Linked DNA regions of Homo sapiens: regions 2, 3 and 4 are each linked to region 1. The links come from fine-mapping of genetic effects on gene expression. A gene starts in region 1. Each other region holds a variant in brackets. All regions are shown on one strand. Distances are between the middles of the regions.

The links. PIP is the estimated chance that this variant, and not a neighbour inherited with it, causes the effect.
Region 2: its variant is fine-mapped to the expression of PPP1R12C in fibroblasts (GENCORD, PIP 0.95).
Region 3: its variant is fine-mapped to the expression of PPP1R12C in whole blood (INTERVAL, PIP above 0.99). The same link has a PIP of 0.9 or more in cerebellum.
Region 4: its variant is fine-mapped to the expression of PPP1R12C in whole blood (TOPMed, PIP above 0.99).

Annotation. Positions count from the first base shown.
Region 1 is chr19:55,114,747-55,122,346 of GRCh38, forward strand. PPP1R12C (protein phosphatase 1 regulatory subunit 12C) reads right to left here and starts at 2,891. Exons shown (of 22, transcript NM_017607.4): 1 at 2,477-2,891. The coding sequence starts at 2,797. RefSeq lists enhancers at 1,287-2,122, 1,477-1,526, 1,927-2,006, 2,967-3,246, 6,185-6,274 and silencers at 2,437-2,536, 2,557-2,636, 2,827-2,906.
Region 2 is chr19:55,236,288-55,243,887 of GRCh38, forward strand. PPP6R1 (protein phosphatase 6 regulatory subunit 1) reads right to left here. Exons shown (of 24, transcript NM_014931.4): 6 at 6,089-6,201; 7 at 5,879-5,992; 8 at 5,190-5,352; 9 at 4,952-5,104; 10 at 4,658-4,792; 11 at 3,949-4,013; 12 at 3,712-3,827; 13 at 3,539-3,624; 14 at 3,307-3,396; 15 at 3,118-3,215; 16 at 626-683; 17 at 356-534. MIR6802 (microRNA 6802) reads right to left here and starts at 3,689; the gene lies at 3,625-3,689. The variant C/T (reference allele first, on the strand shown) is at 4,121.
Region 3 is chr19:55,076,261-55,083,860 of GRCh38, forward strand. It overlaps EPS8L1 (EPS8 signaling adaptor L1), which reads left to right. Exons shown (of 20, transcript NM_133180.3): 2 at 148-201; 3 at 1,828-1,868; 4 at 2,739-2,797; 5 at 3,430-3,591; 6 at 3,869-4,018; 7 at 4,512-4,594; 8 at 4,971-5,232; 9 at 5,513-5,639; 10 at 5,832-5,920; 11 at 6,015-6,089; 12 at 6,194-6,342; 13 at 7,118-7,259; 14 at 7,356-7,384. The coding sequence starts at 185. Among named protein-coding and RNA genes, the nearest start is that of EPS8L1, 4.2 kb to the left of the region's middle. RefSeq lists enhancers at 63-788, 4,037-4,994. The variant G/A (reference allele first, on the strand shown) is at 2,971.
Region 4 is chr19:55,064,294-55,071,885 of GRCh38, forward strand. It overlaps a transcript of RDH13 not described here. Among named protein-coding and RNA genes, the nearest start is that of RDH13, 4.9 kb to the left of the region's middle. RefSeq lists a silencer at 1,865-2,065. The variant A/G (reference allele first, on the strand shown) is at 5,428.

The sequences.
Region 1 (7,600 bases):
TGAGTTTGCCAAGCAGTCACCCCACAGTTGGAGGAGAATCCACCCAAAAGGCAGCCTGGTAGACAGGGCTGGGGTGGCCTCTCGTGGGGTCCAGGCCAAGTAGGTGGCCTGGGGCCTCTGGGGGATGCAGGGGAAGGGGGATGCAGGGGAACGGGGATGCAGGGGAACGGGGCTCAGTCTGAAGAGCAGAGCCAGGAACCCCTGTAGGGAAGGGGCAGGAGAGCCAGGGGCATGAGATGGTGGACGAGGAAGGGGGACAGGGAAGCCTGAGCGCCTCTCCTGGGCTTGCCAAGGACTCAAACCCAGAAGCCCAGAGCAGGGCCTTAGGGAAGCGGGACCCTGCTCTGGGCGGAGGAATATGTCCCAGATAGCACTGGGGACTCTTTAAGGAAAGAAGGATGGAGAAAGAGAAAGGGAGTAGAGGCGGCCACGACCTGGTGAACACCTAGGACGCACCATTCTCACAAAGGGAGTTTTCCACACGGACACCCCCCTCCTCACCACAGCCCTGCCAGGACGGGGCTGGCTACTGGCCTTATCTCACAGGTAAAACTGACGCACGGAGGAACAATATAAATTGGGGACTAGAAAGGTGAAGAGCCAAAGTTAGAACTCAGGACCAACTTATTCTGATTTTGTTTTTCCAAACTGCTTCTCCTCTTGGGAAGTGTAAGGAAGCTGCAGCACCAGGATCAGTGAAACGCACCAGACGGCCGCGTCAGAGCAGCTCAGGTTCTGGGAGAGGGTAGCGCAGGGTGGCCACTGAGAACCGGGCAGGTCACGCATCCCCCCCTTCCCTCCCACCCCCTGCCAAGCTCTCCCTCCCAGGATCCTCTCTGGCTCCATCGTAAGCAAACCTTAGAGGTTCTGGCAAGGAGAGAGATGGCTCCAGGAAATGGGGGTGTGTCACCAGATAAGGAATCTGCCTAACAGGAGGTGGGGGTTAGACCCAATATCAGGAGACTAGGAAGGAGGAGGCCTAAGGATGGGGCTTTTCTGTCACCAATCCTGTCCCTAGTGGCCCCACTGTGGGGTGGAGGGGACAGATAAAAGTACCCAGAACCAGAGCCACATTAACCGGCCCTGGGAATATAAGGTGGTCCCAGCTCGGGGACACAGGATCCCTGGAGGCAGCAAACATGCTGTCCTGAAGTGGACATAGGGGCCCGGGTTGGAGGAAGAAGACTAGCTGAGCTCTCGGACCCCTGGAAGATGCCATGACAGGGGGCTGGAAGAGCTAGCACAGACTAGAGAGGTAAGGGGGGTAGGGGAGCTGCCCAAATGAAAGGAGTGAGAGGTGACCCGAATCCACAGGAGAACGGGGTGTCCAGGCAAAGAAAGCAAGAGGATGGAGAGGTGGCTAAAGCCAGGGAGACGGGGTACTTTGGGGTTGTCCAGAAAAACGGTGATGATGCAGGCCTACAAGAAGGGGAGGCGGGACGCAAGGGAGACATCCGTCGGAGAAGGCCATCCTAAGAAACGAGAGATGGCACAGGCCCCAGAAGGAGAAGGAAAAGGGAACCCAGCGAGTGAAGACGGCATGGGGTTGGGTGAGGGAGGAGAGATGCCCGGAGAGGACCCAGACACGGGGAGGATCCGCTCAGAGGACATCACGTGGTGCAGCGCCGAGAAGGAAGTGCTCCGGAAAGAGCATCCTTGGGCAGCAACACAGCAGAGAGCAAGGGGAAGAGGGAGTGGAGGAAGACGGAACCTGAAGGAGGCGGCAGGGAAGGATCTGGGCCAGCCGTAGAGGTGACCCAGGCCACAAGCTGCAGACAGAAAGCGGCACAGGCCCAGGGGAGAGAATGCAGGTCAGAGAAAGCAGGACCTGCCTGGGAAGGGGAAACAGTGGGCCAGAGGCGGCGCAGAAGCCAGTAGAGCTCAAAGTGGTCCGGACTCAGGAGAGAGACGGCAGCGTTAGAGGGCAGAGTTCCGGCGGCACAGCAAGGGCACTCGGGGGCGAGAGGAGGGCAGCGCAAAGTGACAATGGCCAGGGCCAGGCAGATAGACCAGACTGAGCTATGGGAGCTGGCTCAGGTTCAGGAGAGGGCAGGGCAGGGAAGGAGACAAAGTCCAGGACCGGCTGGAGGGGCTCAACATCGGAAGAGGGGAAGTCGAGGGAGGGATGGTAAGGAGGACTGCATGGGTCAGCACAGGCTGCCAAAGCCAGGGCCAGTTAAAGCGACTCCAATGCGGAAGAGAGTAGGTCGAAGGGGAATGGTAAGGAGGCCTGGGGCAGAGTGGTCAGCACAGAGTGGCTAAGCCCAGGGCCAGTTGAAGCGGCTCCAATTCGGAAGTGGGGTGGTCGAAGGGGAATGGTAAGGGGGACTGGGACGGGGTGTCAGCATAGGGTGGCAAAGCCCAGGGCCAGGAACGACGGGGCGGATCGAGACTGGCAACGGGGAAGGAGGATGCCCCAGGTGGCGCAGCAGAGGGTGGACCTGGCCCCGGGAGACGCCGGGCGGGGGGCGCTGACCTGGTGCAGGGCGCTGATACCGTCGGCGTTGGTGGAGTCCAGCACGGCGCGGGCGGGCGGCGGCGCGGCGGGGTCGAGCTCGGCGCCGGGGCCAGGGTCGGCGGCGCGCAGCATCAGACGCGCCTCGTCCAGGTCGCCGCCCGCACAGGCCGCCAGGAACTCGGCGGCGCGCTCGAAGCGGACGGTGCGGGCGCGGCGCTCTCCGGGGCCAGGCTCGGCGCCCGCCCGCGCCCCCCACTGCCGCAGCTGCTCCCGTCGCCGCTCCCGGGCAGCCGCCGCCGCCGCCCCCGGGCCAGCCGCCGGGCCATCCTCTCCGGACATCGCACCGCCCGCCCGCCCAGCGAGCGAGCGAGCGCCGAGCCCCAACCGCCGCCACCACCCGCCCGCCCGCCCGCCCCGGGGGCCGCCGGGAACTGCCGCTGGCCCCCCACCGCCCCAAGGATCTCCCGGTCCCCGCCCGGCGTGCTGACGTCACGGCGCTGCCCCAGGGTGTGCTGGGCAGGTCGCGGGGAGCGCTGGGAAATGGAGTCCATTAGCAGAAGTGGCCCTTGGCCACTTCCAGGAGTCGCTGTGCCCCGATGCACACTGGGAAGTCCGCAGCTCCGAGGCGCCCAGTGGAAATCGCCAGATGAGGGCCTCCTCCGGGGAATGCTGGGAAATGGAGTCTACAGGCCGGAGGGGTGCCCCACGGCATACTAGGAAGTGTGTAGCACCGGGTAAAGGGGATGAATAGCAGACTGCCCCGGGGCAGTTAGGAATTCGACTGGACAGCCGCGTGGGAGGGAGTGCGGGGAGAGGCAGAGTTGTTTTGTTATTGTTGTTTTATTTTGTTTTCTTTGTTTTGAGACGGAGTCTCGCTCTGTCGCCACGCTGGAGTTCAGTGGCGCGATATCGGCTCGCTGCAACCTCCGCTTCCCAGGTTCAAGCAATTCTGGCTCAGTCCCCAGAGTAGCTGGGATAACAGGCGCGCGCCACCCCGCCCTGCTAATTTTTATATTTTTAGTAGAGACGGGATTTCACCATGTTGGCCATGATGGTCTTGATCTCTTGACCTCATGATCCGCCCGCCTCGGCCTGTAATCCTGCTGGGATGACGAGCGTAAGCCACCATGCCCAGCTGGGTTTTATTTATTTTGGTTTTTTTCCTGACCCCTTAACTAGAAATAAGCTCCACGAGAGCGGGATCTTTTGTCTTCTGTGCACTACTTGTCCTCGGTTCTTAGAACAGAACCTGAGAGAACCTGATCGCAAATATTTTTGGAATGAATGAATGAATGGGTTCACCAGGGCACCATGGGAAACTGAGTCCGCAACCTAGAAGCCATGAAAGACAGTCCACTTCCAAGCTTCCCTGGGTGACCTCGCAGGGCATGCTGGGAAATGAAATTTGCGGTGAAAAGGTCAGGACCACGATCCTAGGGCACGCTGGGAAATGTAGCCCACAGGGCCACACCCCTAAAAGCACAGTGGGGTGCAAGGCAGGGCCCCAAGGCATTTAGGGCTCGGGGCAAGAGAAATCCACACTCCACTCCCTAATGGTAATCCCTGAGCCACACCGAGTAAAGGAACCCAAGACACAGTGTCCACAGGGACAGGGCTCTCAGAGCTTTCACTGGCCCGCGCTTCTCCTGCGCCCACCCGGACCTCCTGGGAACCGCCCAGGCCCTCGCGCGCTCTCAAGGCATGCTGGGATTGGTGGTCCCGGGCAAGGAGTTCCAGCAGGTGGGGGGCGAATCACCTTTCAGCGGGCCCAAGCGATGAGCACACCTTGATCTTCACCTTACGGATCCCGCGCCCAACTCAAGATTGGGAAGGTGGCTGGCACTTTGTGACAGGAAGAGTCCCATAAAAATCATACAGAAAAGGGCCAAAATCGGGACAGAGACTACAGACTGTTTCCCAAGCGCTGTGGGAGTTTCCCACCCACTCTGAAGTCCTTGGGTTTGCGCGGAGACGTAAACTGCGCATCCCACGAGGCCTGTTTCTTTCCCTCTCTCTTTCTCTTTTGTTGTTGTTGTTGCTGCTGCTGTTACGAAAATTTTTGTGGTTTTATTGTATCATGAGGCATTGAAACATCCGGCGACTCAATGTCTAGGCGGTGAGGCAGCCGCTTTCTCCTTCACTTTCTTTGGGTTAAGTAGAGCAACTTGTCAGTAGTTTTGTTTTTTTTTGTTGTTGTTGTTGTTTTTGAGACGGAGGCTTGCTCTGTCGCCCAGGCTGGAGTGCAGTGGCGCGATGTCGGCTCACTGCAAGCTCTGCCTCCCGGGTTCAAGCGATTCTCCTGCCTCAGCCTCCTGAGTAGCTGGGACTACAGGCGTGCTCCACCACGCCCGGCTAATTTTTGTTTTTTAGTAGAGACGGGGTTTCACCATGTTGGCCAGGCTGGTCTCGAATTCCTGACCTCGTGATCCGACTGCCTCGGCCTCCCAAAATGCTGGGATTACAGGCGTGAGCCGCCGCGACCGGCCAGATTTTTTTTTTTTTTAAAGGACAACCTTTTGCATTACTTAAGTCTTTCCAAGGCATGCGCTGGTACAACACAAACTTTTCCCATTACATGCAGCTAGTCTAGTGTCCAGACGTCATGCACAACACCTCCGTGGCATCAGCGCACTGCGCCCACTCCCACTGCGACCCTGCTCATTTGTGCATCATATCTGGAGGAGTGGCAATAGTTCTGGAAAGAGGAGGGAAGAGGAGGCAGCGTGAGGGCCCGGTGGAGAGGAGGTCAGCTGAAGTTGTGCAGAGCAAGCCTGCATATCATTGGTGCAAACCCAAGCATCATTGCATCGCTGATGTTTTGTTTTGTTTGGTTTTGTTTTGTTTTTGAGACGGAGTCTCACTGTGTCGCCCAGGCTGGAGTGCAGTGATGTGATCTCGGCTCACTGCAACCTCCGCCTCCCAGGTTCAAGTGATTCTCCTACCTCAGCCTCCCAAGTAGCTGGGATTACAGGCGTGCTCCACGCCTGGCTAATTTTTGTATTTTTAGTAGAGACAAGGTTTCACCATGTTGGCCAGGCTGGTCTCGATCTCCTGACCTCAAGTGATCCACCCGCCTCAGCTTCCCAAAGTGCTGGGATTACAGGCATGAGCCACCACACCCAGCTGATGTTCTTTAGTAGGAATATCTGGTGGAACCCCAAGATGGGGTCTTCATCCGCCACGAAGCCTGTTTCTATAGAAAGGGATAGTTCTGGTGGCTCTTAGGTGTGGTCCCTGAACCCCACACTTTCCACATACTTACACACCAACCTCCTTCCCCCAGGAAAACAAGAAGTCGGTCTTCAGGGTGTTACCGTGTAGCTCTGGTTCTGTATGTATTCTGTGCCTTTATGTATAATTGTGTGTATTTGCAATCATGTCTGTGGCTGGATGTATGTTGTTTATGAGTTTGTGTTTATGGTTTGTTTTTGTTTGTTTGTTTGTTTGTTTTGAGATGGAGTTTCACTCTTGTCATCGCCCAGGCTGGATTGCACTGGCGCAATCAAAAAAGAGTAAAATAACAGAAATCAGAATGGGCTTATAATACTCTTACCCCTCTCCACACAGGACAGAAGAGTCAATTTTATACTTTTGTGGATGTTCTAACTTCACCTGCTTATCTGAACCATCTTTATGGTGCAGACTAATATCTATTTTTCTGCTGTTACAGAAGAAGTGGGAACATTTTCTTCTTATCTTTCTGAGGTTATTTACACCAGTGAGGAGGGCCTGCAGTTCCAAGGTTAAGCACCAACATTCCACTGTTACCATTGAGAGCAAAGAGCAGACCCTAGAAGTGAAAACAAAACCTTTACCACAGGAAGACAAGAGCAAAAGATGATGTTCTTGAGTGGCATATGAAGATGCTCACAGCCAACATCACATGCCTATCAGATATTTTATGTACATCATCTCATCAACTCCAGGAGGCAGAGACTAAGAGACTAGCCCCAGTCACAGAGCTAGAAATTGGCCAAGACAAGGTTCAATCTGAGGACTGTCAAATCCAGAACTGGAATTTCTTTTTTTTTTTTTTTTTTTTGAGATGGAGTCTCGCTCTGTCACCCAGGCTGGAGTGCAGCGGCATGATCTCAGCTCACTGCAACCTCCACCTCTTGGGTTCAAGCGATTCTCTTGGGACTACAGGTGCACGCCACCACGCCTGGCTAATTCTTGTATTTTTAGTAGAGACGGGGTTTCACCATGTTGGCCAGGATAGTCTCAAACTCCTGACCTCATGATCTGCCCGCCTTGGCCTCCCAAAGTGCTGGGATTACAGGCATGAGCCACTGCACCTGGCCTTAGAAGCCTCAGTTCCTGATGGCAGTTGGGATCTGCCTTTCCTTCCCTGGACTGCCTACCTCTTGTCTTTTAGGTTACATATGAGAAAACAAACCTCCAATTCACCAAAACTATTGTTATTTGGGGAGCTGTCTCTTACTATCAGCCAAACATAACTCCTCAATGACACTGTTAGTTTAGCACTGCCATTATAATCAGGAGGGATCTGGGTCCAGCTGCGGGAACATGAAGAGGCACTAGTGGGATGACCACAGCCAGCCCCTGTTGATTCACCAGGAGACTGCAGATGCATGAGCAAGTCCAGCCAAGATCAGCCAGACAAGAACTCCCAGCGGAGCCCAGCCCAATTTGCCAACTCTCAAACTATAATTTTTTTTTTTTTTTTTGAGACGGAGTCTCGCTCTGTCTCCCAGGCTGGAGTGCAGTGGCGCGATCTCCCCTCACTGCAAGTTCCACCTCCTGGGTTCACGCCATTCTCCTGCCTCAGCCTCCCGAGTAGCTGGGACTACAGACGCCTGCCACCACACCTGGCTAATTTTTTTGTATTTTTAGTAGAGATGGGGTTTCACTGTGTTAGCCAGGATGGTCTCAATCTCCTGACCTCATGATCCGCCCGCCTTGGCCTCCCAAAGTGCTGGGATTACAGGCATGAGCCACCGCGCCCAGCCCTCAAACCATAAGTTAAATAGATGACTGTTGACTCAAGCCACTAATATTTGGGGTAACTTTTTTCTTTTTTCTTTGCTTTTTTTTTTTGAGACCAAGTCCCACTCTGTCATCCAGGCTGGAATGCAGTGGCATGACCTCGGCTCACTGCAACCTCCACCTCTGAGGGTCAAG
Region 2 (7,600 bases), 120 kb after region 1:
AGGACTACAGGTGCACACCACCATGCCCATCTAACTTTTGTATTTTTTGTAGAGACAGGATCTCCCTATGTTGCCCAGGGCTGGTCTCAAACTCCTGAGCTCAAGCAATCCATCTGCCCTGGCCTCCCAAAGTACTGGGATTACAGGCACTCAGGGATTACATGAGCCCACCATGCTTGGCCTTGAATTAGATTTCTATCACTCAAAAGTGAAAGTGCCCCCAACTAATACACACACCAATGCAGGTTCCTTATTTTCTTCATTCACTTCAGCCTCAGTCCAAATGTGTTGGGGGGACCCCTTGGCCCTGCCGTGTGGTGGAAGCTTGGAGAAGGGAAACTGGAGGGGGACTCACCGGACACCAGGTGGCTGGCCCAGACGGGCCCCCCTGGCCAGCTGGCTGCCCTGCCAGGCGCCATCTTCTCCATCAGACTCCCCTGAGCCCTGGGCCTCTTCCTCGTCCTCCTCTTCCTCATCATCATCAAACTGCTGGATGCGGTCCTTGTAGCATATCTCAAGTAGGTTGGCGTTGGGCTGCAGGGCACAGGGGTGGGAGGATGGGCCACACTGCCCACAGCCCCACACCCCTCCACCCGCCACAACCAGGGGACAGGGCAGTACTCACGTTCTCATCGTCAGCATTGAGGGAGAAGGTGATGTTGGCTGTCTTGTCAAAAGGTGCGCTAGGAGAGAAGGCAAGGCATGGTGAGAAGGTCCACCTGGGGGTGGGGGCAGCACAGGACAGGCCACATTTCTTTCTTCACTCAACACAGAGCTGACCCTCATTACTTGCAGATTTGGTATCTGCAAATTCACACACAACCCGAACCACTGGTCCTAAGGGGCAACGCATACATGAATATCAACATCTCACATATGATCACTTTAAATCCTTAAAACCACTCATTGAGGTAGGCTGTTTCCCTTGGCTCTAGAAGTGAGAAAATGGGGCTCGGAAATGTTAAGCGACTCTCCTCAGGCTCTTCCAAGGACAGGTGCCAGAGAGGGATTCAGATCCATGCCCTTGTCCCCATCCTTGGGGCATCTGTAGGAGGCTGACACTCACACCAGCCAGGCACAAGCAGAATGTGAGACTACAGCCCAATAAAGCACATCCCCTAACCTCAAGATGTCTACGGTCCGCGGCTGAAATTCTAAATTATGGGAAAAAGAATCACGTCAAAACTTAAACTGTGCCTGCCAGGGCCCCACCTCCCTCACCACGAGGGTCTAATGATCAGGGTCCACATTCTGTCCCACGTGTTACGGACAGTTCAAGGGATCATTTGTCTCAAATTCATGAAAAATTCTGCCACAAAGATCAATGGATAAAGGACAGTTAATTCTTAAAGGACACTAAGTATGTGACAGACATTACTCACGCACTTCATTCTCACAACCACCTTCCAAGGCAAGTGTCCTTAGTCCCTCCTAGACACTGAGAAGCAGCGGAGCAGAGACCACGCTGGGCACACAGTGGGTCTAGGGCAGGGCAGCCCATGTCCCCGTGGCACTGGCAGCCTCAGCTGACCTGGCTTCTGCTACAGGAGCTATGCGGGGCAGCATCTTCAGCCTTGAGATGATCAAACCAGTCATCCACTTTCCATTCCGGAAATCTTTCTGGGTTTAGTTTTGTTCACTTAACTTCTTAACCCCTCTGGAATTTTCTTGGTAGAGGAAAAGCTAACAGTTTCATCCCGAAAGGGGCAGCTGGTGACCCCAATGCCATCTACCAGTCAGTCCCTTCATTCTCCTGCCAGGGTGGGGTTTTCTTCTTTTTTTTTTTAATTAAAAAAGCAGAGATGGTCTCACAATGTTGCCCAGGCTGGGCTGAAATTCCTGAACTCAAGCGATCCTCCTGCCTCGGCCTCCCTAAGTGCTGGGATTAAGATGTGAGCCACTGTGTCCAGCCCAGTTTTCACTTGAGCATCTTCTCCAGGGGTCTCGGCACAGGCCACTGACCCACAAAGACCAACGCTCTGCAAGTCTCCATGCTGGGCACAGAAGCAGCCAACACAGGATATCACGTCTGCATCTGAGAGGACCTCTGTCCAGCTGTGGACTAAGCCAGGAACAGCTGACTATCCCTCATCGTGGTGTCCCTTACGCTGTGCTGTACAGGGACCCCGGGGCAGCCATGGGCAGCCATCCAGCTCCCACACACTAACCAGCTATGTCCTGGGGCCTCAGTCTCCCTGGCCGTAAATGAGCTCATCGTGGGGAGCAAGACAGAGTCTCGCTCTGTTGCCCAGGCTGGAGTGCAGTGGGACAATCTCGGCTCACTGCAACCTCCGCCTCCCAGGTTCAAGCGATTGTCCTAACTCAGCCTCCCAAGTAGCTGGGACTACACGCACCTGCCACCACGCCTGGCTAATTTTTGTATTTTTTAGTAGAGATGGGGTTTCGCCATGTTGGCCAGGCTAGTCTCGAACTCCTGACCTCAGGTGATCTGCCTGCCTCGGCCTCCCAAAGTACTGGGATCACAGGTGTGATCCACTCCGCCCAGCCACTTTTTTCTGACTCCAGAAGCAACAGATGCTTGTGGCAAGAAACTCAGAAAAGTTCATGATCATAACACCCAGAGGTGACTGATATTAAGATGTGGTTGACCCACAAATCAAAACAAGCAGAATTGGTAATTGGAAAAAAAAAGTTTTGTTACCCCGAGGCCTGTGGAGGGGAAAACTGGACCCCCATGTCTGGCAGACTCCTGAGCCAGAGGGCATCCATGGAGGTGCAGCTCTGCCCCACAGTCCCTGCGCCAGGACTGCTGGTCCCCACTACCCTGAGCCCCTCCCGCCTGGAACCCCTAAGGCTAGCTCCAGGAGTGGGAGGGACCCGCTCTGTGTCCCCAGCACAGAAGATGTTTGTGCCCCACCCTCATGGCCTGCCTCTCGGAGAGAAGAGACTGCAGAGCTGGAACTCATGTAACAGGAGGCAGACACACGAGGCTGCAGACACACACACAAGGCCACGGCCAACGCGTGCCCAGGAGGGGCCACAGCTGCAGGCTGAGCCCACAGGGCATGTAGGTGCGTGCAGGGGACAGATACAAGTAGGCGCGCCTGCTGCTGCAGAGGCAGGACAGGGCTGTGACCCTGCGCAGGAGACACTCACTTCACACTCTCCTCCTGCTCCCCAAACTCCTCATCATTGAAGCCGAAGTGGTCAATGAAGGCAGAGGTCATGCGCTGCATCTGGAAGTCCATGAAGGCCTGTGGGGGTGCGGAGGTTAGGGCTGGAGGGAGTTGGGCAGGACCCCACTCCAGCATAGCCCAGCACAGCCCCACATAGCCCCACGCCCACCTGCTGCAGCACAGCCTCCTCAGGGAAGTTGAACTCCTTGAGCCGGTCGTCCTCATCGTCACTGGAGGAGTGTAGGTGGTGGGTGTTCACCTGGGGAGAGGAGGGGGCGTCAGGGCCTGCTGGAGCCCCCAGACCAGGGTGGGCAGGCAGCTATCGGTGGCGGTGGGAGGCTAAGACTGGCCCAAGAGAGAGAAGCAGCAGGAGGAGTGCAGGAAGAGAAGCTGGGCCTCACCAGGTCCACCATGTTCTTCTTGTTGGTCTCCGCCAGGGGCCCCGATACGAAGGCTTCCCACTGCTCCTGCTGCTCGCTGGGCAGCTCTGCTTAGGTGAGAGGGGTGAAGACGTGAGGCATCTCGGGGCTTCAAGCCCCCCACCTAGCCCTCAGGCCGGCCTGGGGACCCTCACCCTTCAGCAGCTGCCGCAGCTGCTCTGCATTGGGCCCCTTCTCCGTGTTCTGCACCAGGGCACCGGCCACTCTTGTCAGGTGACCCATGTAGCCTTTCCGAGGGCCTCCCGCACACCTGGCAAGAGTGAAGGCCGCGGCTGCAAGCCAGGACTGGACCCAGGGATGCCCAGCCCCAGCCCGGCCCCCCATCCAGGCAGCCCCAGCCCCTGGAGACATGAAGGGCAGCAGGTGCTCACTGTACACGGTCGTTCTCCTCCCAGGACGTCAGGATCCGCTCCACCAGGCGGCACTGCTGCAGCAGCTGCGGGAGAGCGGGACAGGATGGCCTGGAGGGGTGGTCTGCACACATGTGGGGAGCTCTGCACTGCAGCAGGGGTCCCTTCCTCAGCAGATGCTTCACCAGGCCCC[C/T]GCTCATCCAGAGACGGGGATGGGAAGGAGGGATGCAAGCTGGGGCTTGGGACCCTGGCATCCACCCAAGTCTCTCTGGTCTTTCTACAAAAGAATATGTGGTGCATACACACACACACACACACACACACACACACACACACACACACATGCATGCACTAACGGACACACACATGCTCACACATACATGTTCACATACTCGTGTGCACTCACACACATACATGCTCTCACACACGCTTGCACTGACACATGCTCACACACGCACGTGTGCGCACTCATGCACACTCAGCTGCTCGCAGGTCTGCTCCCGCCCACCCCTAGCTCTTCAGCTCAAGTCAGGAGCCCACTGCTCCCTGCACCTGCATGTTTCATCCGCGTTTCTCCCTGGCCATGCCTCCCACACCCCATCTGGGCGCTGGCACCTAACACTACCCAACAAACACTTGTGGGAGGAAGGAGTGAGGGGTAGGCCTCTGGAGAGGGTGCGCCCACAGGGGATGGGCCCAGAAGGAGGGGGACCAGGGAGTCCCAGCTCACATGTTTCACAACAGGGTTTTGGATGGGCGTCTCAGGGCTGCTGTCAGGAGGTGGCCCCAAGCTCAGCATGGTGCTCACGCATCCCTCTACTTGGGCATGCAAGAAGTTGTTGAAGACATAATGGAAGAAGAGGTCCTATGGGAGGACACAGGATTGGTACCAGAGAGGCCCCGCCCCAGCCGAGCCCCCAACCCCTGAGCCCCCAGCCGAGCCCCCACCCCAGCCCCCGAACCCTCAGCCCAGTCCAGTCCCCGCCCCAGCCCCTGAACCCCCAGCCCGGTCCAGTCCCCGCACCAGCATGGTGTTGGGCACGTCCAGTGCCAGGAGCTCGTGCGTCAGGGCTGCATCATTGGCGCTCAGGGCACTGGCCAGGAGCTTGACCACGTGCAGCCGCGTGTTGCCCAGAGGCGGAGCCAGCATGCCCCATGTCATCTGTAGCGGCTCCAGCTGCAGACACAGGGAGGCCTGATTCCCAAGGGCTGCCCTTCCTGCTTCCCCCGCCTCCCCGAGGACCAGAACCCACACCCCTGACCTTGGGAGGCTCCAGCAGGAGCTGGTGGAAGCAGCTGAGCCGCGGGCGTAGGGCGTGCAAGGCGCCCACACTGGACACAGTGCTTTCCAGGGCCCCCTGGGCCAGGAGCTCCAGCTGCCCATCCACACTGCTGAAGAAGCTGTTCACGGTCACGGACTCGGACCTGCAGCAGGGCAGGGTCGAAGGCGGAGTGAGCCTAGATGGCCTGTGCGCCCACACAGGAGTAGGCACAAGGACCACGTCTGCAGGGTCTGGAGGAAAACGAGGAGCCACATGCCCCCAGCGCCGCTCTCTTCTGAGGCCCTTCAGACAACACCTGGCTGGGGTGGGGAGCCCGCCAGGCGGCAGCATTGGCAGTCCACTGTGAGAGCACGGGTGAGGGGTGGAGGCGGGAAGGCAAACCCAACAGGCTAGCGGCCTGTGTGGTAAGGCAGGGGCACGGGGGCCTGGGGTCCCTCCCAACACAAGCTGCAGCAGTGGCCTCAGCCTCAGTGCCCTCACTTGTCAAAGCAGACAAGAAGATTCCTCCCTCGGCCCCGTACTGTCCACTGTGCAGGGAGCACAGGCAGCCACAGAGCAAGGTGCCACGGGCGGGGATTTCTCTTGGTGGACACCGAGACCCGCCTCTGAGGGGCCGGAGAGCCCCTGGGGATGGGCAGCATGCATGGTCTGTGGCCCGTATCCCTCACCTCGGCCTCCTGGGCTCCAGCAGGGTCAGCAGCACCTGGATCCCACTGACGATGACAGACTGGCTCTGCTCCCCCTCGAACATGTTGCTTAAGAGCTGCTCAATCGTCTCCTGCCTGCGGGGGCAGGGGCAGGGGTCAGGGTGAGGGGCCAGGGGCCCAGGGCTTCCCCAAGTCAGCTCCCCCCAGCCTTAGCCTTGCCCGCACACCCACTTCTCCAGGGTGGCCAGCAGTTGGTCAGGCTCTGGGCTGTCCTGGACTTGGATCATCTGCTCCCGGCTCAGGCGGATGATGTCACACAGGGACTGGGATGCGTTGGAATGTTGCTGGAACGGGGAGAGACAGGTGAGGATCCTGGTCGGGCCACCGGGCCCTCTGCAGCCTGGTGCTGGGAGCCCCTCCCATGAGCTGACCATCCAGGGAAAAATGGTCACCCAGACACAGGGACACGTGTTACGAAGGAGGAGGGCACAGAGGCACCAACTGCTGGAGGGAAGATGGTGGAGAGAACAGGAAGCCCGGAAGGCTCCCCAGGACAGGAGGCATCCACACAAGGCCCTCATGACCGCATACAGGGCTGGCAGCACCGCCCACAATGACCCAGAAGGCTCTGACTGATGAGTGAATATGCCCAAGCTGGTCTATCCACACAGGAGAGTGCTAATCAGCCAGGAAAAGGAGTGAAACTGATACATGCAACCACATGAATGAGCCACAAAAACATCATGCTAGAGAAAGAAACCACACACAGATCACGTAGTACATGATTCCAATTATATGAAATGTCCAAAGACAAATCCACAGAGACAGAATAGTCTGGTGGTTGCCGGGGGCTAAGAAGAGAAAGGGGAAGATCAGGAGGAGCTGCTAATGAACACAGGGCATCTTTTTTATTTTTTCTGGAGAAAGGGTCTCGGCTGGGTGTGATGGCACATGCCTATAATCCCAGCAGTCTGAAAGGCCGAGGTGGGGCCGGGCGCGGTGGCTCACGCCTGTAATCCCAGCACTTTGGGAGGCCGAGGCAGGTGGATCACGAGGTCAGGAGTTTGAGACCAGCCTGGCCAACATGGTGAAACCCCATCTCTACTAAAAATAAAAAAATTAGCCAGGCGCAGTGGTAGGCGCCTGTAGTCCCAGCTACTCGGGAGGCTGAGGCAGGAGAATCGCTTGAACCTGGGAGGTGGAGGCTGCAGTGAGCCGAGATCGTGCCACTGCACTCTAGACAGAGCGAGACTCCATCTCAAAAAAAAAAAAAAAAAAAGAAAGGCCAAGGTGGCAGGATCACTTGAGCCCAGGAGTTTGAGACCAGTCGGGGCAACATAGCAAAACTCTATCTCTACAAATACAAAAAAATTAGCCAAGAATGGTGGTGTGCATCTCTAGTTCCAGCTGTTCATGAGGCAGAGGCAGGAGGATTGCTTGAGCCCAGGGGGGTCAAGGCTACAGTGAGGCAAGATCACGCCACTGCACTCCAGCCTGGGCAACAGAGCAAGACACTGTCTCAAAAAAAAGACACGGCCTCTACATCACCCCAGGCTTGAGCGCAGTGGTGCCATCACAGCTCACTGCAGCCCTGAACTCCTGGGCCCAAGAGATCCTCCCGTCTCAGACTCTTGAGTAGCTAGGATTACAGGTGTGCACCACCAATGCCAGCTAATTTTTCAATTTTTTGTAGCGACAACGTCTTGCTATGTTGCCCAGGCTAGTCTCAAACTCCTGGGCTCA
Region 3 (7,600 bases), 38 kb before region 1:
GGTCTGAGGGAGGAGGGGCTGGGGGCCTGGACTCCTGGGCCTGAGGGAGGAGGGGCTGGGGCCTGGATGCCTGCATTGAGGGAGGAGGCTGGGGTAGGAATTAGAGGCTCCTACTGGCCAGGCCTTCACATGTTTGCTGGCTCCCAGGGCACCTCCAGGTGGGCAGGAGCTACCACTCAGCACCATGAGCACCGCCACAGGGTAAGCGCCCCCGGACCCCAGGTCCCAGCCCCAGCACGCCTCCCGCCTCCCCTCGCCTCCTCACCCACACCCGCTTGCGGCAGCCCAGACTGTTTGCGGCGGCCCAGACTCTGGCCCAAGCCCCGACACTCAGGAGGAAGCCAGAGCCTCTCTCCTCCCTGCCCAGCCTGGGGTTAGGGGCCCCCACTGCAGAGCAGACAGGCCTGAGCTCCAGTTCGGCCCTCACACTCAGTGCTGATGTAACCCTGGTCAGAGGACATCACCTCCTGGAGCCTCAGCCCCTCCTCTGTGACACAGGGACAATGTTGAAAAATTGGAGGGATAGTGCATTACAGGACTTAGCTGACCACCTCACTGACAGCAGGTGCTCAACTCATAGGAGTCGCTATTGCGATTGTTATGTTGTTAGTAAATATTAACCCTTTGCTAGAAAATCAGGGCTGTTTATAATGAAGACTCAAGTCCCCCAGAGTAAGCAGGGAGAAAAACAATGAGAGATGAGTCAAAATACCTGCATGGTAGGTAGTGAGCTCTCTGGCCCAGAGGTAATCAAATTGTGGTGACATCAGACTGGCAGGAGCAGGATGAGGAACAGGAGTTTGGGAAAAAGGGTTTTTCAGTTCCCCTGACGCCACCTGATCGCTGAGCTTCTGTTATGTGCATGCAAGTGGGGATTCAAGAATTCTTAGGAAAGGTAATCTTAGGAAGAAATTGAGGACGGGAGGAGACAGAGAAGGATGTGGTTGGGAAGCACCTGGCCCATGGGAGTGGGAGGGGAAGCAGATAATTCCCTGTCTACTTCAGATACCACTAATGCTATTATAACCATTCCCATTTATTGAGCAACTTCTGTGTGCTAAGCCCTGGCAGCATCTTAAGAATGATAATAACAGTTATTGAGGCTTCAAAATACTTCACCTGCATCATCTGACTGAATTTGCCCAACAGCCCTACCAGATGGTTACTACGTTACAGAAAGAAAAACTGAGGCAGGAGAGATTAAATCCTCTTCTGAAGGTCTTATGGCAAGGAGGCAGTAGACAGAGGGTTTGAATCCCGGACTATGCCATGGTAGAGATCACACTCCCCTACCACCCAGCACCACCGCCTGACCTGACCTGTCTTTTTTTTTTTTTTTTTTTTTTTGAGATGGAGTCTCACTCTGCTGCCAGGCTGGAGTGCAGTGGCACGATCTGGACTCACTGCAACCTCCGCCTCCCAGGTTCAAGTGATTCTCCTGCCTCAGCCTCCCACGTAGCTGGCACTACAGGCGCCCACCACCACACCCAGCTAATTTTTGTATTTTTAGTAGAGACAGGGTTTCACCATGTTGGCCAAGATGGTCTCAATCTCTTGACTTTGTGATCCGCCCACCTCTGCCTCCCAAAGTGCTGGGATTACAGGCGTGAGCCACCGCGCCCAGCCTACCTGTCTTCTTAAAGTCCAGCTCTGGCTCTGAGCTCTCCTGCTCAATAATAATAATAATAATAATAATAATAATAATAATAATAACCCTTCCATCGCTCCCCATTACCTTCGTCATGAAGCCCTTGCTGCCCTGCTTGGCATTTCCACAGGATCTGCCCCCAGTCCCACAGTCTCTCTCATTCCTCTTTTCTTCACCAGCCCAGAAGCTGCCCCAAAGCCAAGCGCCAAGTCTATCTATGGTGAGCGGGGGGCAAGGGAGCCCCAGGCCCATAGAACTGGGTCTAAAGAAACAGGACCTGGCATCCAGGGTCTTGGAGGAGGAGGGGCTGGGGGTCTGGACTCCTGAGTCAGAGGGAAGAGGTGCTGGGGGTCTGGACTCCTGGGTCAGAGGGAAGAGGGGCTGGGGGGCTGGACTCCTAGGTTTGAGGGAGGAGGGGCTGGGGGCCTGGACTCCTGAGTCAGAGGGAAGAGGTGCTGGGGGCCTGGACTCCTGGGTCAGAGGGAAGAGGGGCTGGGGGGCTGGACTCCTGGGTCAGAGGGAAGAGGGGCTGGGGGGCTGGACTCCTGGGTCAGAGGGAAGAGGGGCTGGGGGGCTGGACTCCTGGGTCAGAGGGAAGAGGGGCTGGGGGGCTGGACTCCTGGGTCAGAGGGAAGAGGGGCTGGGGGGCTGGACTCCTGGGTCAGAGGGAAGAGGGGCTGGGGGTCTGGACTCCTGAGTCAGAGGGAAGAGGGGCTGGGGGGCTGGACTCCTGGGTCAGAGGGAAGAGGGGCTGGGGGCCTGGACTCCTGGGTCAGAGGGAAGAGGGGCTGGGGGCCTGGACTCCTGGGTCAGAGGGAAGAGGGGCTGGGGGTCTGGACTCCTGGGTCAGAGGGAGGAGGGGCTGGGGGGCTGGACTCCTGGGTCAGAGGGAAGAGGGGCTGGGGGCCTGGACTCCTGGGTTTGAGGGAGGAGGGGCTGGGGGCCTGGACTCCTGGGTCAGAGGGAAGAGGGGCTGGGGGGCTGGACTCCTAGGTTTGAGGGAGGAGGGGCTGGGGGCCTGGACTCCTGGGTCTGATGGAGGAGGGGCTGGGCCTGGACTCCCAGGCTCATTCTCTTTCTCCCCTGGCAGAGCAGAGGAAGCGTTACTCCACAGTTGTTATGGCTGATGTATCCCAGTACCCAGTCAATGTGAGTCTGGGGTCTGTGTTCCCCCAGGACATCTTCTGGGGCAAAGGTGGCCTCAGGAGATAGGGCTTTTGAAAGCAGCTAGGCCCCCAAGCAGGAAGCATGTGGAAAGTCAGTTTGCCCATCCATAAAATGGACCTCCGTTGCCTCACCTCAGTCATGGATATGAAGCCAGG[G/A]GCCTCGGGTCCACTTAATCTGCCAGCCTTTCCTCCAGGCCAGCTGTTGTGCTGGACAGTGGGACCACGGAGGCAAATCAAGACACAGCCCTGCATGAGGAAGGGGTAGACAAGGTCCAGAGGAATCCACAGAGGCGCCTGGTGCTCTAATGGAGGTGGCAGGGGGCATGGCAGGAGACCCGAGGAGGCATTTAGAAGGAGAGAGCTATAATCCAGACTCCTTCCCTGCCCGCAAGGAGCCTCCAGTCTGTGAGAAGCCAGACTCAGGTGCTAGTCACTCTGATGAAAGGGAAACAAAGGGCACTGGGAGGAGGAGCTGATTTGTGGAACAGGTGATCAAGGAAGGCTTCCTGGAGGAGGTGTGGTTAGTCTCAGGCTGAAAGTCTGATTATTCTGGGGGATTCTGAGCCCACCTGGCATCATCTTGGGCCTCACTGCTTTCTCCATGGTCCGTACCAGCACCTGGTGACGTTCTGCCTGGGTGAGGACGATGGCGTGCATACCGTGGAGGATGCCTCCAGGAAGTTGGCCGTCATGGATAGCCAGGGCCGAGTCTGGGCACAGGAGATGCTGCTGCGAGTGTCTCCCGACCATGTCACGCTGCTCGACCCGGCCTCCAAGGTGCCGGGGGGCACGTGGGTGGGAGGAGTGTCTGGGGCAGGGACTTCAGGGGGTCTGGGTGTGAATCTTGGCTCCTGCACGTCCTTCCTCTGGGAACTCTGGCGAGGGACCCCAGCCCCCTTCTTGAGCCTTAATAGCCTCATCTATTAAACAGGGCTGTTATCCCTAACCCCCTAACCGCCTGAGGTTGCCCTGACCTGCTGGCCCACACTCCCGTCGCCATTTAGTAGTACCATCATTTCGGGGCCTCAGTTTACCCCGCCATCCCACCCGGCAGGAGGAGCTGGAGTCGTACCCACTGGGCGCCATCGTGCGCTGTGACGCGGTGATGCCACCCGGCAGGAGCCGCTCGTTGCTGCTGCTCGTGTGCCAGGAACCCGAGCGCGCGCAGCCCGACGTGCACTTCTTCCAGGGCCTGCGCCTCGGGGTGAGCAGATGGGCTGGCTCTGGGGGTGGAGCTGGAACTGGGCGGAGCCTGGAGCCGGGGCGGAAATGGGTGGGGCCTCTAGGTGGGGCGGGGCCTGGGGCTAAGGCGGGATCAGAGCAAGGAAGGGCAGGGGACCTGGGAAGGAAGTTCTGGAAGGCAGTGGGGTTTGAGATTGGACCCAGGGTCAAGATAGAACATGAAGGTGGGATGAGGACATGAACAGAACATGGCCAAGAAGGATCTGGGGGAGCAGCCAGGACGAGGTGGGGGCGAGGAACCACCCGGACTGGGTCTCCATGGGCGGGGTCGTGGCTTAGGGCAGGGACAGGTGTAGGGCGAGGGGTGAGTTCGGGGCGTGGACGTGCGTGGGTTCACAGGTGTGAACGGTAGCCGCACGTGGGCTGGGACTGAGCTGAAAAATCGGCCAGGGGCGAGGCCCGGGTAGGAAGTGGGTGCGGCGTGGGGAGGCGTGGCCTGACGGTGTGATTGGCAGGCGGAGCTGATCCGAGAGGACATCCAGGGGGCTCTGCACAATTACCGCTCGGGCCGCGGGGAGCGCAGGGCGGCGGCGCTCAGGTGAGAGGGAAGAAGTTGGCAGGGTCTCTGGGAAGCCGGTTTCCCCTCCTTGTGCCTCAGTCTACAACACCAGCCTGGAACAGAACAAGAGTTTTGCATGGAGTCAAGCACACCCTAGTCGAGTCTTGTCTGTACCTCCCAGACGAGCTGACCCCTTCTCCAGAACTCTGCTTCTTTTCTCTGTTCCCTGTCCAGGCCCTCAGTTTCACTCTAGAGAGGTGCTATCCCTCCGTATATCGGATTTCTCCCTACCTCGTTGAACTTGTTCACTCCCTTTGAGCCTTTTGAGCCTGTGTGTCTCGTTCTGCGCCCTGGATTTCCCCCTCCCTGGACCCCTCAGTGGACCCAGTCTTGGTGTCCCCGTCGCCCTCCGCAGGGCCACGCAGGAGGAGTTGCAGCGCGACCGCTCGCCCGCCGCTGAGACCCCGCCCCTGCAGCGCCGCCCGTCAGTCCGCGCAGTGATCAGCACCGTAGAGCGGGGCGCGGGCCGCGGACGACCCCAGGCGAAGCCCATTCCCGAGGCAGAGGAGGCGCAGAGGCCTGAGCCGGTGGGGACCTCGAGCAACGCTGACTCGGCCTCCCCGGACCTGGGTCCCCGGGGTCCTGACCTGGCGGTTCTGCAGGCGGAGCGGGAAGTGGTGAGCCGCTAAGGAAGGGGTCTGGGGGCAGGGCCAGGCGACTGGAGGCGGGGCTAGGGCGTGGAAGGGCGGGGCCGGCTGCGGGACGGGCGTTCTCTGGTCAGACTTCTGCGTTATGGAAGAGGGGCTGGGTCGGGGGCGGGGCTTGGTTGTGGGGCGTGGCCAGGTGTTTGGGGCGTGGCCTGATCTGGGGAAGTGTATAGGTGCTCAGGTTCAGGGCTTCGACGGGGATGGTTTTGGAACTCGGGAGCCCTGAGCGTCCCCCTCCTCTGTCCCCTAGGACATCCTGAACCACGTGTTCGACGACGTAGAGAGCTTTGTATCGAGGCTGCAGAAGTCGGCGGAGGCGGCCAGGGTGCTGGAGCACCGGGAACGCGGCCGCAGGAGCCGGCGCCGGGCGGCTGGGGGTAAGGGGCACCCTGGCGTGGGATCTGAACCCCCTCCCGATCTCTTCCAAATGTCCCCGCTCTCCCCAGGCTCTCCCCTCCCGCCACTTGCCAGGGCTGACCTCACCGCCATCTTAACCGGGTGTCCACCTCTCTCTGCCTGCCTGGTGCTGGCCCCGCGTCCCCATCGCCGCGCCCGTCTGCTCCCCTCAGAGGGCTTGCTGACGCTGCGGGCCAAGCCGCCCTCGGAGGCCGAGTACACCGACGTGCTGCAGAAGATCAAGTACGCCTTCAGCCTGCTGGTGAGGACGCGCCCGCCCCTGGGCCGGGGCGCGGGCACGACGAACCTGTCCCGTCCCCGCACCCACGCCAACCACCTCCCTCCCCACGCCCCAGGCCCGGCTGCGCGGCAACATCGCCGACCCCTCCTCTCCGGAGCTGTTGCACTTCCTTTTCGGGCCTCTGCAGATGGTGAGACCCGCCCCAGGCCCTCGGGCCCCCCTGCAGCGGGAGGAATCGGGTTCGACTTGTAGAAGGTGTGGCGGCACAGCCTGCCCCTCCTGCTCCCCTGACAGATTGTGAACACGTCGGGGGGGCCGGAGTTCGCGAGCAGTGTGCGGCGGCCGCATCTGACATCGGATGCCGTGGCGCTGCTGCGGGACAACGTCACTCCACGTGAAAACGAGCTCTGGACCTCGCTGGGGGACTCGTGGACCCGCCCCGGGTGAGGGGCGGGGCTGGGAGGCAGGGGGCATGGTGATTGGAGGAGCATAAGGCGCTGGGAGGTGGGTGGCATGATGATTGGAAAATAGGACTAGGAGAGTAGGGAGGGGTTAGAGGCGTGGCTTAGTTGTGTTGGGGCGGGGCTTAGGACAGATGCCAAGATTCAATTGGAGGAAAGGCCAGGAATTAACGTGAAGGAAAGATTTAAGACCACCAGACCAATCGGATTGAAAGAAAAGGGGGGCTTAAAGGAATAGAGGGGCTAGGGGCTACGGGGCAGGGGCGGGGCTACGCGAAGGGGCGGGGCTTCTGGAAGGTTTGGTCTATAACTTTGGTGATGGGACAGAGTCTGTGCACTGCGGGCTGGCAGTTCCGCAGGGAAAGGGTCAGAACCTGAAACCGACCTTACGGAAAACCTGATTTGGAATCAGGTGAGATTTAGAGGCTGGATAAGGCAATTTTTTTCCAGAGAGAGAGATGGATGGGGTCTCAATATTTTGCCCAGGCTGGTCTGGAACTCCTGGCCTCAAGCGATCCTCCCATCTTGGCCTCCCAAAATGCTGGGATTACAGGCGTGAGCCACCGTGCCCGGTCTAGAAATATAAATTGCTGTTGAGTTGGGCTTAGAGCTACCGGCAGGACTTGGTGAAAAGTGGCGGGGCTAGAATCGTTGGAATACAGCGAGCTTTAGGGGAAAACTTAGTGAAGTTAATGCAGGAACGAAGTTGGGGGCTGTATCAGGATCCCTGAGCTCTTGGCCCTGTCCCTGGCCGCAGGCTGGAGCTGTCCCCGGAGGAGGGACCCCCATACAGACCCGAGTTCTTCAGCGGCTGGGAGCCGCCGGTCACTGACCCGCAGAGCCGCGCCTGGGAGGACCCAGTTGAGAAACAGCTACAGCACGAGCGGAGGCGCCGGCAGGTGACCCAAGCGACACAGCAGGGCCGAGGCTGGGAAGTCCGGGGGCGCGGCCGGTCCGCCTGGCCCCGCCTGACCCGACTGTCTTACTTCCTACAGCAAAGCGCCCCCCAGGTCGCTGTCAATGGGTGAGTGTCCGCCCCAGGGCAGGGCAAGGGGGTCAAGGAGGGGTGCGTCCCGGGGGCTCCCGATGCTGACTCCGCCCCCTTTTTTTCTGTGTTTTTCCTTCTGTCTTCCTGGCTCTTCTCAGGTGGGTGAGATGGTGATGGGGCGGGCCGGGGCTGGGAGAGAGGGAGGAGCAGGGTGGGAGGGGGCGGGACCCAGACTTCTGGGGCTAAGGGAGT
Region 4 (7,592 bases), 50 kb before region 1:
ACCTGTAGTCCCAGCTACTCAGGAGGCCGAAGCAGGAGCATCACTTGAACTCGGGAGGTGGAGGTTGCAGTGAGCCGAGATTGCCCTACTGCATTCCAGCCTGGCGACAGAGTGAAATTCTGTCAAAAAAAAAAAAACCTTAGGCCTGTAGACCTTAAGCTCTCACCATCTCAAACGTATTAAACCAGTTACACAATGCCAAATGCTGTATAAGAGGCACTTGGAGGAGTCAAATTCATAGAGACAGAAAACAGAGTGGTGGCTGCAGGGGGCTGGAGATGAGATTGGGAAGTCACAGGATTTGTTTTTGTTTGTTTGTTTGTTTTGTTTTGTTTTTTGAGAGACAGTCTCACTGTGTCACCCAGGCTGGAGAGCAGTGGGCGATCTCAGCTCACTGCAACCTCTGCCTCCTAGGTTCAAGCGATTCTCCTGCCTCAGCCTCCCGAGTAGCTGGGGCTACAGGCACGTGTCACCACACCCGGCTAATTTTTGTATTTTTAGTAGAGACGGGGTTTCACCATGTTGGCCAGGTTGGTCTCAAACTCCTGACCTCAGGTGATCCACCTGCCTCGGCCACCCAAAGTGCTGGGATTACAGGCATGAGCCACCGCACCCGGCCGGGAAGCTGTTTTTTAATAGATACAGAGTTTGTTTTGCAAAATAAAAAAAAGACCTGAAGGTGGACGGTGGTGATGGTTGCACAACAATGTGAATATACTTAACATCACTGAATTGTACACTTAAAATGGTTAAGATGGTACATTTTACTTTATGCATAGTTTACCAAACTAAAAATAAAGAAAAATTTTAGACTGGGCATGGTGGCTCATGCCTGTAATCCCAGCACTTTGGGAGGCCAAAGTGGAGAATAGTATGAGCCCAGGAGTTTGAGAGCGGCCTGGACAACACGGCAAAACCTTATCTCTACAAAAAATACAAAAATTAGCAGGTTTGGTGGCACGCATCTGCACCCTCAGCTACTTGGGAGGCTGAGGTGGGAGGTCTGCTTGAGCCCAGGAGGTCAAGGCTATGATGAGCTGTGATTGTGCCACTGCACCCCAGGCTGGGTGACAGAGCAAGACCCCATCTCAAAAATAATAATAATAAATGTTTACATTTAATAACATGGGCAATTGGTTCAGATGTTCATTTTCTCAACCTTGAAAAAAAAACAACACTGTTTTTCCCTGTCTTTTTCTCCTTTTCTGTAAACTGAAATCCTAATATCATTGACTTCCAGGACAGAGATCAGCAAACTTTTTCTACAAACAGCCAGATAGTAAATAATTTCAGCTTTGTGATCCACACAGTGGCTGTTGCACCTCCTCTGCCAGAGGAGCTGGGAAGCAGCCACAGATGATGTGAAAACAAGTGAGCACAGCTGTGTTCCCATAAAACTTTATTTATAAAAATAAGCAGTGCGCCACAGTTCGCCAGCTCCTGTTTGAGAGTCTCTCTCCGATGCCCAGGCTGGAGCGCAGTGATGCAATCTCAGCTCACTGCAACCTCTGCCTCCTGGGTTCAAGCGATTCTCCTGCCTCAGCCTCATGAGTAGCTGGGATTACAGGCGCTCGCCGCCACACCTGGCTGATTTTTGTATTTTTAGTAGAGACGGGGTTTCACCATGTTGGCCAGGCTGGTTTTGAACTCCAGGCTTCAGGTGATCCACCTGCCTCAGCCTCCCAAAGTGCTGGGATTACAAAGCGTGAGCCACTGCGCCCAGCTACCTGTCATTGAATTTGGAAGGATGGCATGAAGTCATTCATAACAAGGACTTAATCCATAGTAAGTGCCAGAACATTGCTGGCTGTTAATATGGTTATTATAAAGAGAACAATGCATGCATATTCCTCCTCTGAGGATCTCCTACCTGATTCCCAGACACACCCAAGGGAGTTAGAACATCTGTTTGGACTCCAGGTGGGCTGTCCACGCCTTTACCATTTTCCTGGTTGTTAACATGTTCCTGATCAGCACTGGGTGCTGTCCCAGGTGCTGAGAGGATTCTCCCACAATGCCCTTTGCTTTCCCCATCAGAGGGTTTATGGCACCCAATTCTCATTCACATTCTGTCTCTCCTTTCTCGTTCTTCTCTATCTCTCCTCTCTCTGTCTCCTTTTCTCTTCCTCTCTCCCTCTCTGTCTTCTCTCCCTCTCTCTCCCTCTCTCTTCCTCTCTCTCTTCCTCTGTCCTCTTTTCTCTCTCTCTCTCCCTCTCTCTCACATCTCTCTTTCCCTTCCTTTCTCTTTCCTCTCTCTTCCTCTCTCCCTCTCCCTCCTTCTGTCTTCCTCTATCCCTCTCTTCCTCTTTTTTCTTCCTCTCTTCTTGTCTCTTTCTCTCCTCTCTCTCTCCCTCTTTCTCTTTCTCTCTCTCTTCCTCTCCCTTCCTCTTCCTCTCTCTCCTTCTTTCTTCCTCTCTCTCTTCTTGTGTGTGTCTCTCTCTCTCTGTTCTCTCTCTCCCTCTCCCCCCAACTCTCTTTCCCTACACACATCTTAAGAGGCCTCAGCAGTGTAAGGTAAGTTTAGCGACCCTGTGGCTGTGTAGAGATAAGCAAAGGGGGGCAAGGAGCTCCAGTGGTCCCAGACTCCAGCCATTTGAGTCTTTGCAGCCCAAGCACTGCCCCAGCTTCTTGACAGCCCCAGCCATCACCAAAGGGCACACAGATAAGCTGCCTCCACCAAGGCCTGTGCAGATGGTAGGTTTTTGAGTAAAATAGATATGATCCTTGTCTGAAGCCACTGAGTTTTAGAATAATTTGTTATATGGCCATAGTAACTGGAATGATTGCTGTAGGTTTATTTTATTTTATTCATCCTTGCTGCATGCAACACATGCATGGCTCAGTAACTAGAAGGAAAGAAGAGAAGAAGGGAGGGAGAGGCAGAGGGTGGACAGGAGAGGATGGTAGGAAGGAAAGACAGGAAAGGAGGGTGTTGGTGGCCTTGCCTGCAAGCTGAGCAGACACCACGCAAACAGGTGACCTCCCAGTTAAGATGGAGGGGACTCAGGGCTCAGGAGGGGCAGAAGGTCCCCGTGTCGGAGAGCTGGGCAAGCTTTCTGCAGGAAATGATGGGGATCACGGCCATGTGAGCCGGCAAGATTTCCCTCAGCCAGGGAGGAGACTCCGGGCTGTGGGAACAGCTTAAGCAGAAGGCATGGGACAGGAATGCATATGAGAGATATTGTGGGAGGAGGGAGGGCTGCCTGGGCTGGCATGCAGGGTATGGGAGGGGGTGGAAGGGCTGAGGCGGGAGCCATCAGTAAAAGGACCCAGAGCGCGGCTCCAATGCCATGGTAGGAAGCTTGGCGTTGACTCAGAGGGCGCTGGGTACCGCTGAAGAGTGTTGAGCCAAGGAGGGTCATGTCACGGGCAGATACATGTTTTAGAATTTCTTCTTTTCTGGCTGAGATGTAGAGTATGGACTGGAGAGAAGCACAGGGGACATAGGAAAGGTAGTTCTAGAAAGAGGGGCTGTCCCACCAGGGAAAGTCAACCAACTGTTCCCCAGTATCCATTCCTCCCTTCCAGCTCATGGCACTAAAGCCACTGATTGATTAGCTGGGTGCTATCAATCTCTCTCTCATCTCTCTCTCCCTCTTTCTCTCCCCCTCATCTGTGTCTTTTCTCTCTCTCATCTCTCTGTCTCCCTCTTTCTGTCCCCCTCCTCCGTGTCTCCTCTCTCTCTCTTCTCTGTCTCATATCTCTCTCATTGCTCTCTCCCTCTTTCTCTCCCCCTCCTGTGTCTCCTTCTCTCTCTCTCTTTCTCCCCCATCTCTCTTTCTCTCCCCCTTCCTCTCTTTCTCCTCTCACTCTTCCTGTTTCTCTCTTTCTCTTTCTTCCTCTCTTTCTCCCTGTCTCTCTCTTCCTCTTTTCCTTTGTCTCTCTCTCTCCCCCCAACTCTCTCTCCCTACACACATCTTGAGAGACCTCAGCAGTGTAAGATAAGTTTAGCTACTCCACGGCCTGGCACGGTAGCTCACGCCTTTAATCCCAGCACTTTGAGAGGCCAAGGCAGGCAGATCACTGGAGATTAGGGGTTTGAAACCAGCCTGGCCAACATGGTGAAACCCTGTCTCTACTACAAGTACCAAAAAATTAGCTGGGCATGGTGGCACGCGCCTGTAGTCCCAGCTACTCGGAAGGCTGAGGCAGGAGAATCGCTTGAGCCTGGGAGGCGGAAGTTGCAGTGAGCCGAGACCACACCTCTGCACTCCAGCCTGGGTGACAGAGTGAGATTCTGTCTCAAAAAAAGAAAGAGGAGGCCGGGCACTGTGGCTCAGGCCTGTAATCCCAGCACTTTGGGAGGCCGAGGCATGCAGATCACGAGGTCAGGAGATCGAGACCATCCTGGCTAACACAGTGAAACCCCGTCTCTATTAAAAATACAAAAAAATTAGCCAGGCACGGTGGCGGGTGCCTGTAGTCCCAGCTACTCGGGAGGCTGAGGCAGGAGAATGGCGTGAACCCGGGAGGCGGAGCTTGCAGTGAGCCGAGATCGCGCCACTGCACTCCAGCCTGGGCGACAGAGCAAGACTCTGTCAAGAAAGAAAGAAAAGAAAAGAAAAAAAGAAAAGAATAAAGGGAGGGAGGGAAGGGAAAGGAAGGGAAGGAAGGAAGGAAGGAAGGAAGGAAGGAAGGAAGGAAGGAAGGAAGGGGAGGGGAGGGGAGGGGAAGGGAGGGAAGAAAGGCAGGCCCTGATGTTCAGGGAGCTGAGAGTGAAGTCACCGGCTCCAACCCAGGATCCAAACTCAAGTCTGTCTGGGGTCCTATCCCCGTCACCACCCCCCGCCCCGACCCATCCCCCAGAGACCTGGGAAGGAGCCAGGCTCCTCCGGTTTCAGGAAAGGGCTGCACAAACCACCCCGCCACGATCCCTCCCAGAGAACAAACAGCTCCCGGCCACCGGCAGTCTCCCTCCTCCTCCTGCCAGGCTGGTTCCCAGACCCACCCTCCCTGTGTCATAAGCGCCTCTCCCCGCACTCTCACCAGGGCTGGCTGTTCTCAGAGGAACGCCCAGGAAAAACCTACCCGAACCCCTTTCAGCTGGGAAGGGGACCCGCCTGGGCTTCCTCACCGCCGATGAGACCTCCCTCGTCGTACACTTAGAGCTGCCTGTGTTTTCCTTCCTTCCTTAAGCGGGCTGGGAACTCTAGACACTCAGGGATGGGCCAGCCCATTAGAGTAAGCATTCGGCCACCTCTAGGCTGCTACGGTCACTGCTGCTGTCACCATCAACGTGACTGTCTCACACCTCACTTCCTCCGGCCAGCCACACCCCTGCAGATTTAACCCGCCAGCCTCCCTAAGGTTTCCTCTGCCTGAAATCCTCTCTGCATTCCTGGCTCATTCTCGAAATTGAGGTCAAAGCTCAGATGCCGCCTCCTTCCCTGACCACCCTACCTGAAGCAGCCGCACCTGCCTGCTCCT[A/G]GTCACGCCGTTCCTTCACCTGTTTCGTTTCCTCCACAGGGTTTACCACAATCTGAAAGTCTTATTCATGCAGGTGTCTACTTGTTTATCTCCCCACCACACCTACTAGGATGACAATATCACAAGGGCTGGGGTTTCATCTGTCTCCTCCTCCTCTGTATCTCCAGCACATGAAACATGCTTGGCACACTGTAGGTGCTTAAGTATTTGCTACTACATCACTTTGGGATTTTGCATAGGACACTCCCAATGCTTAGAATGTCAATCTTTGCTTCATTGTCCTTGGCAAACTCCTATTCATCCTTTGAAACCCCATCCATTTATCCCTTAACCAGGAAAGGCTTCTGTGCCTCATACAACCACCCATAAAGCTGGATTAGGGCTTTCTCTGGGGACACCCTTGCCCTGTGCCACACTTCCATTAGCGCACATATCCCCCATGAATTGTGCACACCAGCAGGGTCTAGAGTACGGCACACATTTTGTCTCAGGAGCTACGTATTGAATAAATAAATTAATTACTTTTTTTGAGACAAGGTCTTGCTCTGTCACCCAGGCTGGAGTGCAGTGGTGCAATCGTGGCTCACTGTACCTTGACCTCCCAGGTTCAAGCAATCCTCCCACCTCAGCCTCCCAAGCAGCTAGGACCACAGATGCAGGCCACTATGCCTGGCTAATTTTTAATTTTTTTTTTGGTAGGGATGGAATCTCCCTATGTTGCCCAGGCTGGTTTCAAACTCCTAGGCTCAAGGGATCCTCCTGCCTCTGCTTCCCAAAGTACTGGGACTATAGGTGTGAGACGCCACACTCAGCCTCATTATTTAATATGTAAGTAGCTATATCTCTCTGAGACCCAGCCCCATCTAATTTATAACCTCCCTCCTTCTCAAGAACATGCCTCAGCTCCCATTGCCAGGGAATCTGACCTTTCTCCTTGTCATAGGATTTTTTTTTTTTTTTGAGTCAGAATCTCAGTCAGTCACCCAGCCTGGAGTGCATGGCGCAATGGCTCGCTGCAACCTCTGCCTCCCGGGTTCAAGTGATTCTCCTGCCTCAGTCTCCCTAGTAGCTGGGACTACAAGCGCACGCCACCACACCCAGCTACTTTTGTAGAGATGGGGTTTCACCATGTTGGCTAAGCTGGTCTCGAACTCCTGATCTCAAGTGATGGCCTCCCAAAATGCTGGGTAACAGGTGTGAGGCACCACATCCGGCTGTCATAGGAATTTGTCAGCAAATCCTACAGACTAGAGGATGTGTGTTGGGTGGTGTGGGGGTGGGGATAACGGAGGAGATGGGGGGTGAGCTCTTCAAGCCCCAGGGGAGAATTCTGTTCCGTTCCTGGGACATCCCAGGTGAGAGGGAAGAAAGGCCAGCCCCCCAAGACAGCTATCCCAGACTGGGACAGAGGCAAACCCTGACCACAGAGCCCTGTCACTCACCCAAGAACAGGTGCCAATGACAGAATAGCCAGGCCGAGGGGGGAGAGAGGTGCTTCGGTGATGGATTTCCCTGGTGACTTGCCAAGACAGGGCTTTACTGCCTCCGCCCTGGACTGGCTGAGTCAGACTGTGCAGGGGTGGACACTTTGACTGGTATTTGGGAGGCATTTGCTGTGGGTTACAGAGAGGGAGGGGCCTCCTTTGCGGCCAGAGAAGGAGGAAAGAGGCCCTGGGCCCTGGGACTTGGGACTTGGGTGGAGGCTCGGGTTTCGGTCTCACCTGCTGCTCCAGACCATGGCCTGGAGGGCCGCCTGCGCCACCCCCAAAGCAATGAGATAGCCCCTCCTCCCTCAGACCCAGGAGTCCAGGCCCCCAGCCCCTCCTCCCTCAGACCCAAGAGTCCAGACCCCAGCCCCTCCTCCCTCAGACCCAAAGGCCTCGGACCCATACCAAATGCTTCTATGAGATAGTTTTCTCCCCTTGTTCATGAAGAAATGAGCCCAGGCCCAGTCAGATCTGCATCTGTGTCACAGCCCAGGGCCACTGTAACCTTAGGCTACTGACTTCCCTCTCTGAGCCTCTGTTTTCTCCTGTCAATGGGGCAAGGGGTCTGCTCCTTCCCTCAAACCCCAACTCAGGTACAGTCAAGCACAGAAAATACTTGTGGCATGAATGTGATGAGAACACAGAATTGCAGAAGCCAAAGAAAGAGAAGCGTAAGGG